2 linked regions of the Homo sapiens genome follow. The protein of the gene in region 2 interacts with the protein of the main gene of each other region in a biochemical or structural test. Each region holds a gene or a part of one and is shown on either strand. Other genes may lie near its edges.

What was found.
Region 1: the proteins of NAGPA (region 2) and AP2A1 form a complex in vitro, tested with the Homo sapiens proteins (one study listed by BioGRID).

The regions. Positions count from the first base shown.
Region 1 is NC_000019.10:49,773,253-49,777,062, reverse strand, and holds part of AP2A1 (AP-2 complex subunit alpha-1), read right to left. Parts: intron 1-3,810.
Region 2 is NC_000016.10:5,027,535-5,031,140, forward strand, and holds part of NAGPA (N-acetylglucosamine-1-phosphodiester alpha-N-acetylglucosaminidase precursor), read right to left. Parts: intron 2,960-3,606; coding exon 2,851-2,959; intron 1,475-2,850; coding exon 1,346-1,474; intron 652-1,345; coding exon 446-651; intron 360-445; coding exon 312-359; intron 1-311. UniProt on the Homo sapiens protein: Catalyzes the second step in the formation of the mannose 6-phosphate targeting signal on lysosomal enzyme oligosaccharides by removing GlcNAc residues from GlcNAc-alpha-P-mannose moieties, which are formed in the first step.

The sequences.
Region 1 (3,810 bases), on a different chromosome or scaffold from region 2:
GAGACAGGGTTTCACCATGTTGACCAGACTGGTTTTGAACTTCTGACCTCAAGTGATCCACCCGCCTCAGCCTCCCAAAGTAAAGTGCTAGGATTACAGGCATGAGCCACTGCACCTGGCCTTTAAATAGGCTTTAAATGGTCCACATCTATTTGATGCTATCTTCTGCATAACTGGTATAATTTGCTATAAAAAAAGGAATTCAGAGAGAGAAGAAAAGCTCTCGGTCTTCAAAACAGGAGCAGTTGTGGCCCCAAAGGGAGGGCTCTGGCAGAGGCCCAGCTCTGCAAAGATCTAAAGGCCCGTGATGGCCAGGGAGCCCAGGGATACTGTATGGGTGCTACTGGGGTGGTGCCTGGGGAAAGGGCTGAGGCAGCTCTGACAGACCAGGATCATGGGAAGAATGACCCGGCATTCAGGGCCAGCAACAGGGGGAATGAGCTCACTGTCACAGGAGGCAAGCAAGCCTGTGAGAGAGTTTTAAAGGGATTCTCTCATTCACAATGGGATTTCTGGGGCCAGGCTTAAGGATGAGTCACATCTACCCTGCTCTCGAGGCATCCCTGGATTGGAGTGGTGGCAGACAGGGACAGTGGCAAGTATTCTGAAAGAGGTATACACATTTCGGGGCTGAGAGGCTAAAATGAGAATGGCGCAGGGGACGGGGAAGGCTTCTCTGCACACAGCTGCTGGGATCTGAGGATCAAAAGATGAGGCTGAAATGGACCAGGCAGAAACAAGGGGAGGCGCGCTCCAGGCAGGAGGACCAGCAGGTGCAATGGCCTGGAGGTAGGACAGCATGAGGCAAGGCAGGCGGACGGTGATGAAAGAGGCACAGAGTCTGAGGATGCGGGCGGCGGCGGGGGCGGGTGGAGAAGAGCACAGCAGGTGGGGCCAGACCACGCAGCCTCTCCAGAGTTTTCTGAGGTGCTGGGGGGGGCCATGGGAGGGGCAGGCCGTGCTCCGTCCAGTGGCTGTTGCCGTGAGGGGTGTTCGGGTGCGAAGGCGGCCAACATCTTGCTCCAGGCAGAGTAAGGCAGAGTCAAGGGAAGTGCTGACGGGGCCAGGGAGCTGCCTTACCTTGGAGCTTCTGGTTAGGGGAGATAACGCCTTCCCTAAACATGTAAGCCCCAGATCAGGGTGGGTCTGTTACTACCAGCAAAGGCATCCTGTCAAACCTGGGCCCTGCCCTGGAGGGACTAATGTGCATTTATGAAGGTAACACAGGCATCACCCAGCATCTCACCGCAAAGGCCTTCAGAGCCTTCTAGACCAAGGACATTTCCTCTACAGAGACCGAGACCTGATGTGCTTCCTGTACAAGCCCCAGCAGCCCTGAATCCTCAGAAAGCCTTCTGAAGGCTGGGTGCAATGCCTCCCGCCTCTAATCCCAGCACTTTGGGAGGCTGAGACAGGCAGATCACTTGAGCCCAGGAATCTGAGACCAGCCTGGGTAACACAGGCTCATACCTGTAATCCCAGCACTTTGGGAGGCCGAGGCAGGTGGATCACTTGAGGTCAGGAGTTTGGGACCAGCCTGGCCAACATGGCAAAATCCCATATCTACTAAAAATACAAAAATTAGCCGGGCATGGTGGTGCACACCTGTAGTCCCAGCTACTAGGGAGGCTGAGGCAGGAGAATCGCTTGAACCTGGGAGGTAGAGGTTGCAGTGAGCTGAGATCCTGACACTGCACTCAGCCTGGGCCATACAGCAAGACTCCATCTCAAAAAACACTGGTTACACACTGAAATAATAGTTTGGATATACTAGGGTAAAGAAAATATATTAAAATGAATTTCACTGATTATTTTGCTTTTTTAAAAAATATATGGAGACAGGGTCTTGCTGTATTGTCCAGGCTGGAGTGTGGTGGTGCGATCTTGACTCATTGCAACCTCGACCTCCTGGGCTCAAGCGATCGTCCCATCTCAGCCTCCGAAGAAGCTAGGACTACAGGTGCATGCCACCATGCGTGGCTAATTTTAAAAGTTTTTTTGTGGTGGGGAGAGACAGGATCTTGTTGCCTAGGCTGTTCTCAAACTCCTGGGCTCAACCAAACTGCCCGCCTCGGCCCCACAAAGTGCTGGGATTACAGGCGTGAGCTGCCATGCTCAGCCTGTTTTGCTTTTTTTTTTTTTTTGAGACAAAGTCTCTCTCTGTCACCCAGGCTGGAGCGCAGTGGCACAATCTCGGCTCACTGCAACCTCCACCTCCTGGGTTCAAGCGATTCTCCTGCCTCAGCCTCCCGAGTGGCTAGGACTACAGGTGTGCCACGAGGCCCAGCTAATTTGTGTATTTTTAGTAGAGACGGAGTTTCACTATGTTGGCCAGGTTGGTCTCAAACTCCTGACCTCGTGATCCGCCTGCCTCGGCCTCCCAAAGTGCTGGGATTACAGGCGTGAGCCACCATACCTGGCCCCTGTTTTGCTTTTGCAATGTGGCAAGAAAATTTCAACATATGCCGGGCGTGGACAGAGCAAGACTCCGTCTCAAAAAAAGAAAAAAAAAAGAAAATTTCAACATATATATGGCTTGCATTTTGGTGCTGGGTTACACCACTCATATTCTCAAGGTCATCACTATTCCTGGGTGATGAAAATATATTCTTCGTAAATAACAAAATCAAACCCTCTCATTCTCCTGGTCAGCCCCCCTGCTCAGCAGGGCGAACTATTTGGGCCACCAAGACCCTGCCTGAGTTGCCTCCTTACATATTAAGGGTTTGCATGTTCATTTCCTCCTGGATCGGAACACCAGTGCCATGAGGCCAGGGATGTACGGCTGCTTCAGTCCCCACAGTGTTCCCAGGGCCCAGGGCAGCCTGGCACAGGGGAGGTGTTGAATGCGGATTTGTGGACCAAAGCCATCACACAATAACCAGCTGGAAACGGGTGGGGCTGGGGCTCAGGCCTGCATCTGTCCCGTTCTTAAGGGATACCAAATTGAAATCTGTTTGACTTCCTGTGCTCTTCACAGAGGCCAGAGGGATCATGTGAAAACTTGAGTCAGACCCCAGCACTCCTCCAAACCCCTTCCATGGCTCCCAGCAAGTTCGAAGTAAAAGTAAAGTTCTCACTGCAGCCCACAAGGGCCTGCACCATCTACCCTGTTCCCTCTCTGGCCGGTTCTCCTGTCCTCTCTCTCCAAGGCAGGAGCTGCCCTCTCCTCCTCCTAAGTCCCTGCTCCACTACAAGCACAATCCTGCCTCAGGGCCTTTGCACAGGCAGCTCCCTCTTCCAGAGTCATGCATGCACCATTCCCCCACTTAGTTAGATTCTCTGCTCCAATGCCACCTTTTCAGCGACACTCTCTGACCAGCCTATATAAGAGCATCATCCTTAACTCCATCCCCAAGCCCTTTCCTTGCCTCATTTTCCATCAACACCTACTCCCACCTGTCCGGCCCCCAAAATATTCACCTGTGTAGTGGACCATCTCCTCTCTAGAACGTGAGCACCCTAGGGCAGGAACTTCTGCTCACTGCTGTAGCCCCATCACCTAGAACAGTGCCTGGCACCCAGCTGGAACTCAAGAAAGACTGGTTCCATCATTCATTCATTCATTCAACTGGCAATCATCTCCTGAGGCCTCCCATGGGCTAGAACCTACAGAGGACAAAGCTGGAGTGAGACCCAGGGCCTGGGCTCGATGTCACCACTGCAGTGGATCACCATTTGGAGTGGGATGTGCTCTGATGGAAGAGCTCAGGGCAGTGTGCAGCCAGCACCCCGCTCCCATTGGCTCACTCGTCCAACTCTCCTAAGGCCCACTCCAGCCAGACTCTGCCTAGATAGGAGGCAGCCCCA
Region 2 (3,606 bases):
TGAACGTGACCTTATTTGGAAGCAGAATCTCTACAGAGGCACTGCAGTTAGGATCTCAAGATAAGACCGTGCTGGATTTGAGGTGGGCCCTGGAGCCAGAGCCCGGGGACCCTTGTTTTAGCCGAGCCCTTTGTGGAACGGGCCGCAGCAGCCACAGGGGAGTCACACAGTGATGTGCAGGTGAGGCCGGGGCAGAAGACAAGAGGCAAGCATTTCCCAGACCAGAAGGTGGAGACAGAAGCAGCAGAGGAGCAGTGGGGGCTGCCGGGGGCCACCGTCTCCCCATCCGCTAGTGGCGTGGCAGCTCCTACCTTCACTGCAGTTGGACCCGGTCCATCCGGCATCACAGCGGCAGCCGGCTGCCGAGACAAGACCGGGGAGGCCAGGTGAGGGCCTAGGGCAAGGCAGGGCTGGGCAGAGCCCCCTCCCCAGAACCCCCACTCACTCTCCGTGCACAGTCCGTGCTGGCTGCAGTTAGAGGGGCCACAGTCCAGCTCATCACAGCCGGGACCCCGCCAGAAGTGCCCGGTGCATTGGCAGTGCCCGTCCACGCAGGTCCCGTGGCCGTGGCAGTCAGGCGGCTGGCAGCGGGGTTCGTGCACACACACCACGGTGGACACTTGGCGGGGACAGCGCCACATGTTGTCCTGGCTGTAGAGGGATGTGATGTGTGAGGAGAGGACACCCCCAGACGGCCCCTCAACTCCCTCCAGGCTGCCCCCAACCACCCCTCTCTCCATTCTCACCTGTCTACCTACCTACCTACAAGATGGCGTCTATCTATTTTTGAGATGAGGTATTGCGATCCTTCCACCCGAGCCTCCTGAGCAGCTGTAACCGTAAGGTGTGCACCATCACGCCTGCCTAATTTTTTTTTATTTTTTCATAAAGACAGGGTCTATGTTGCCCACACTGGTCTTAAACTCCTGGGCCCAAGCGAACCTCCCACCTCGGCCTCCCAAAGCACTGGGATTCCAGGCGTGAGCCCCTGTGCCCAGCCCTCTCCAGTCTTTTATAGGTTCCTCCGCTCCCTACAATCCCTCCCAGCCCTGGGCCTTTCACATGTGGTGCCCTCTGCCCGGAAGGCTCTCCCACCCCCACCCAGCTACCACCTCCTTCAGATCTCAGTTCTTATTCTGTCATCCTCAGGGAGGTCTTTGCTGACCAACTGACCCTGCTCCTAGGCCTGGGTAGTACTGGCATCCTGGGGGAGGGACTGCAGCAATTTCTGCTCTCTTGAACCCCCGGGGCCTGGCACATAGCAGGCACTCAATATTGGCTGAATGAGACAGGCTGGGGCAGACCTGGACTTCAGCCCTCACGAAGGCGGCTCTCACGTGCTTACCAGTGATCTGACGGGTAACTGGCCAAGGTCCCGTTGAGCACAAAGGTGGCAGAGCCACCCCCATCCAGGTTGATGGCGTTGACCACGTCCTGTTTCAGCAGGAACTCCGCCATTTCCCACAGGTTGATGCTGCGGCACAAAGCGGCGCTGCTCAGGCTCAGCGCCCACCATCATTTCTCATTTAACTCCTTTTCCTTCCACAGTGCAGAGCATCACGCCCACAGTGCAGGCACATTTCTAAGTGGCCCCCGCCCCCAAGCATGTCTCATCCTAGCCCCCGGAAGCTGTGAACACGTGAGATCACACCCATGCCTGTGCTGTTACATGGCATAGGAATCCTTAAGGGAGGGGAAACGGCCCGGAGGATCTGGGTGCAGCCACTGGAATCACAGGAGTGTTCAACACAGAGAGCCTTCTCTGGCTGGTGACAGAATAGGAAGTGAGATTTGAAATACGAGGGGGATGAGAGGGTGGCCGGACAACTGGGGGAGAGGACACACATGGGAAGGAACCTGGGCAGCTTGAAGGAGCTGAGGCCCCAGATGGCGGCCAGCAGGGAAACCAAGACCTCAGTCACAACTGAGGAGGCGACGGGGATTCTTCCAACAACCTAAACAAGAGGATTCTTTCCAGATAAGAGAAGAGCCCTGCCTAACCAGCATCTTGGTTTTGTCCATGGGACACCCTGAACATAGAACATTCCAAGTTGACCAGCCTGGCCAACATGATGAAACCCTGTGTCTACTAAAAATACAAAAATTAGCCAGGTGCGGTGACTCACGCCTGTTAATTCCAGCACTTTGGAAGGCCGAGGTAGATGGATCACCTGAGGTCAGGAGTTCGAGACCAGCCTGGCCAACATGATGAAACCCCATCTCTACTAAAAATACAAAAATTAGCTGGGTGTGGTGGCGGGTGCCCGTAATCCCAGTTACCTGGGAGGCTAAGGTGGGAGGATCACCTGAACCTGAGAGGTAGAGGTTGCAGTGAGCTGAGATTGCACCACTGCACTCTGGCCTGGGCGACGGAGTAAGACCCTGTCTCAAAGAAACAAACAAACAAAAGAACATTCCCTGCTGAGTGTTGCTAAATTTGTGCTGGTTATGCAACCAGAGCAAACCAAAACACTCTCTTTACAGGGGCTAGAAATGAGGCTCAGGGAGGCCGAGGGACTTGTCTACGGCATAGGTGGGTAGACAAGTCATCGATGGCTAAGCTGGGATTGGAACCAAGATCTTCTCCCTGCTCACTTTGTGACCATTTCCTTGTATCCTATCTAGGGTTCAGGAAAGGTGAGGCCTAAAGCTGAAGATGATGAGTTCTTGGAATCGGCAAAGATCTCAGAACCCTCATCCTGTGGGAAGGTGAGGGGGCCCTGGGAGGGGGGACAGATAGGTGTCAACATCCCAGAAAGCAGGTAGAGTCAGAGGGTGGCTGTCATTGGGTCAACGTTCCTCCTAGCAGGACTGAGCCCCGGCCGGGGGGCCTCAGCTCCCAGGACTCACCCACGCTGCTCCGTTTGGCCGTCTGCATGAAAGAGCACCAGCTGCCCTTTCCGGTCGTGGCCAATGGCCGTCCTGGCTGATATCACATTCACAAATTTGCTAAAGGAACCTGAAGGAAAAGCAGCCTGGCTGATCACCGCCCCTTGGGAGGCCTCCTGCTTCTTGCCTAACTCCACTTCCCACTGGTCTGAGCTACCTGGTACCTCCCTGGGAAGCACAGCAGCCTCCTTGCTCGTCTCCCTGCCTCCCCTCTGCACATCCCAGTCTCCCCAGGGCAGCCGGGGGGTCTCTTCTTACAGGTAAACCAAGCTATGCCAGCCTCCAGGTGAAGACCCTCTAATGGTTTCCCCTGTTCTTAGAACAAAATCCAAAGAGCCAGCATGCCCTCCCCAGCCTCTTCCTCCTCCTGCCTCAGCTCCTGGGTGTCCCCTCACCACCCTGCAGCCACTTTGCACTTCCTGTTCCCTCTGGCTGGGAACTGTGCTTTTCTCTAGCTTGCTCCTTTGTCAGATCACCTCCTTAGTGAGGCCTTCCTTGACCGCCCACTCTTTTTTTTTTTTTGAGACAAAGAGTCTCGCTGTGTTGCCCGGGCTGGAGTGCAGTGGCATGATCTCAGCTCACTGCAACCTCCACCTCCCAGGTTCAAGCAATTCTCATGCTTCAGCCTCCCAAGTAGCTGGGACTACAGGCACACACCACCATGCCTGGCTAATTTTTGTATTTTTTTTTTTTGTAGAGATAGGTCTCACTATGTTG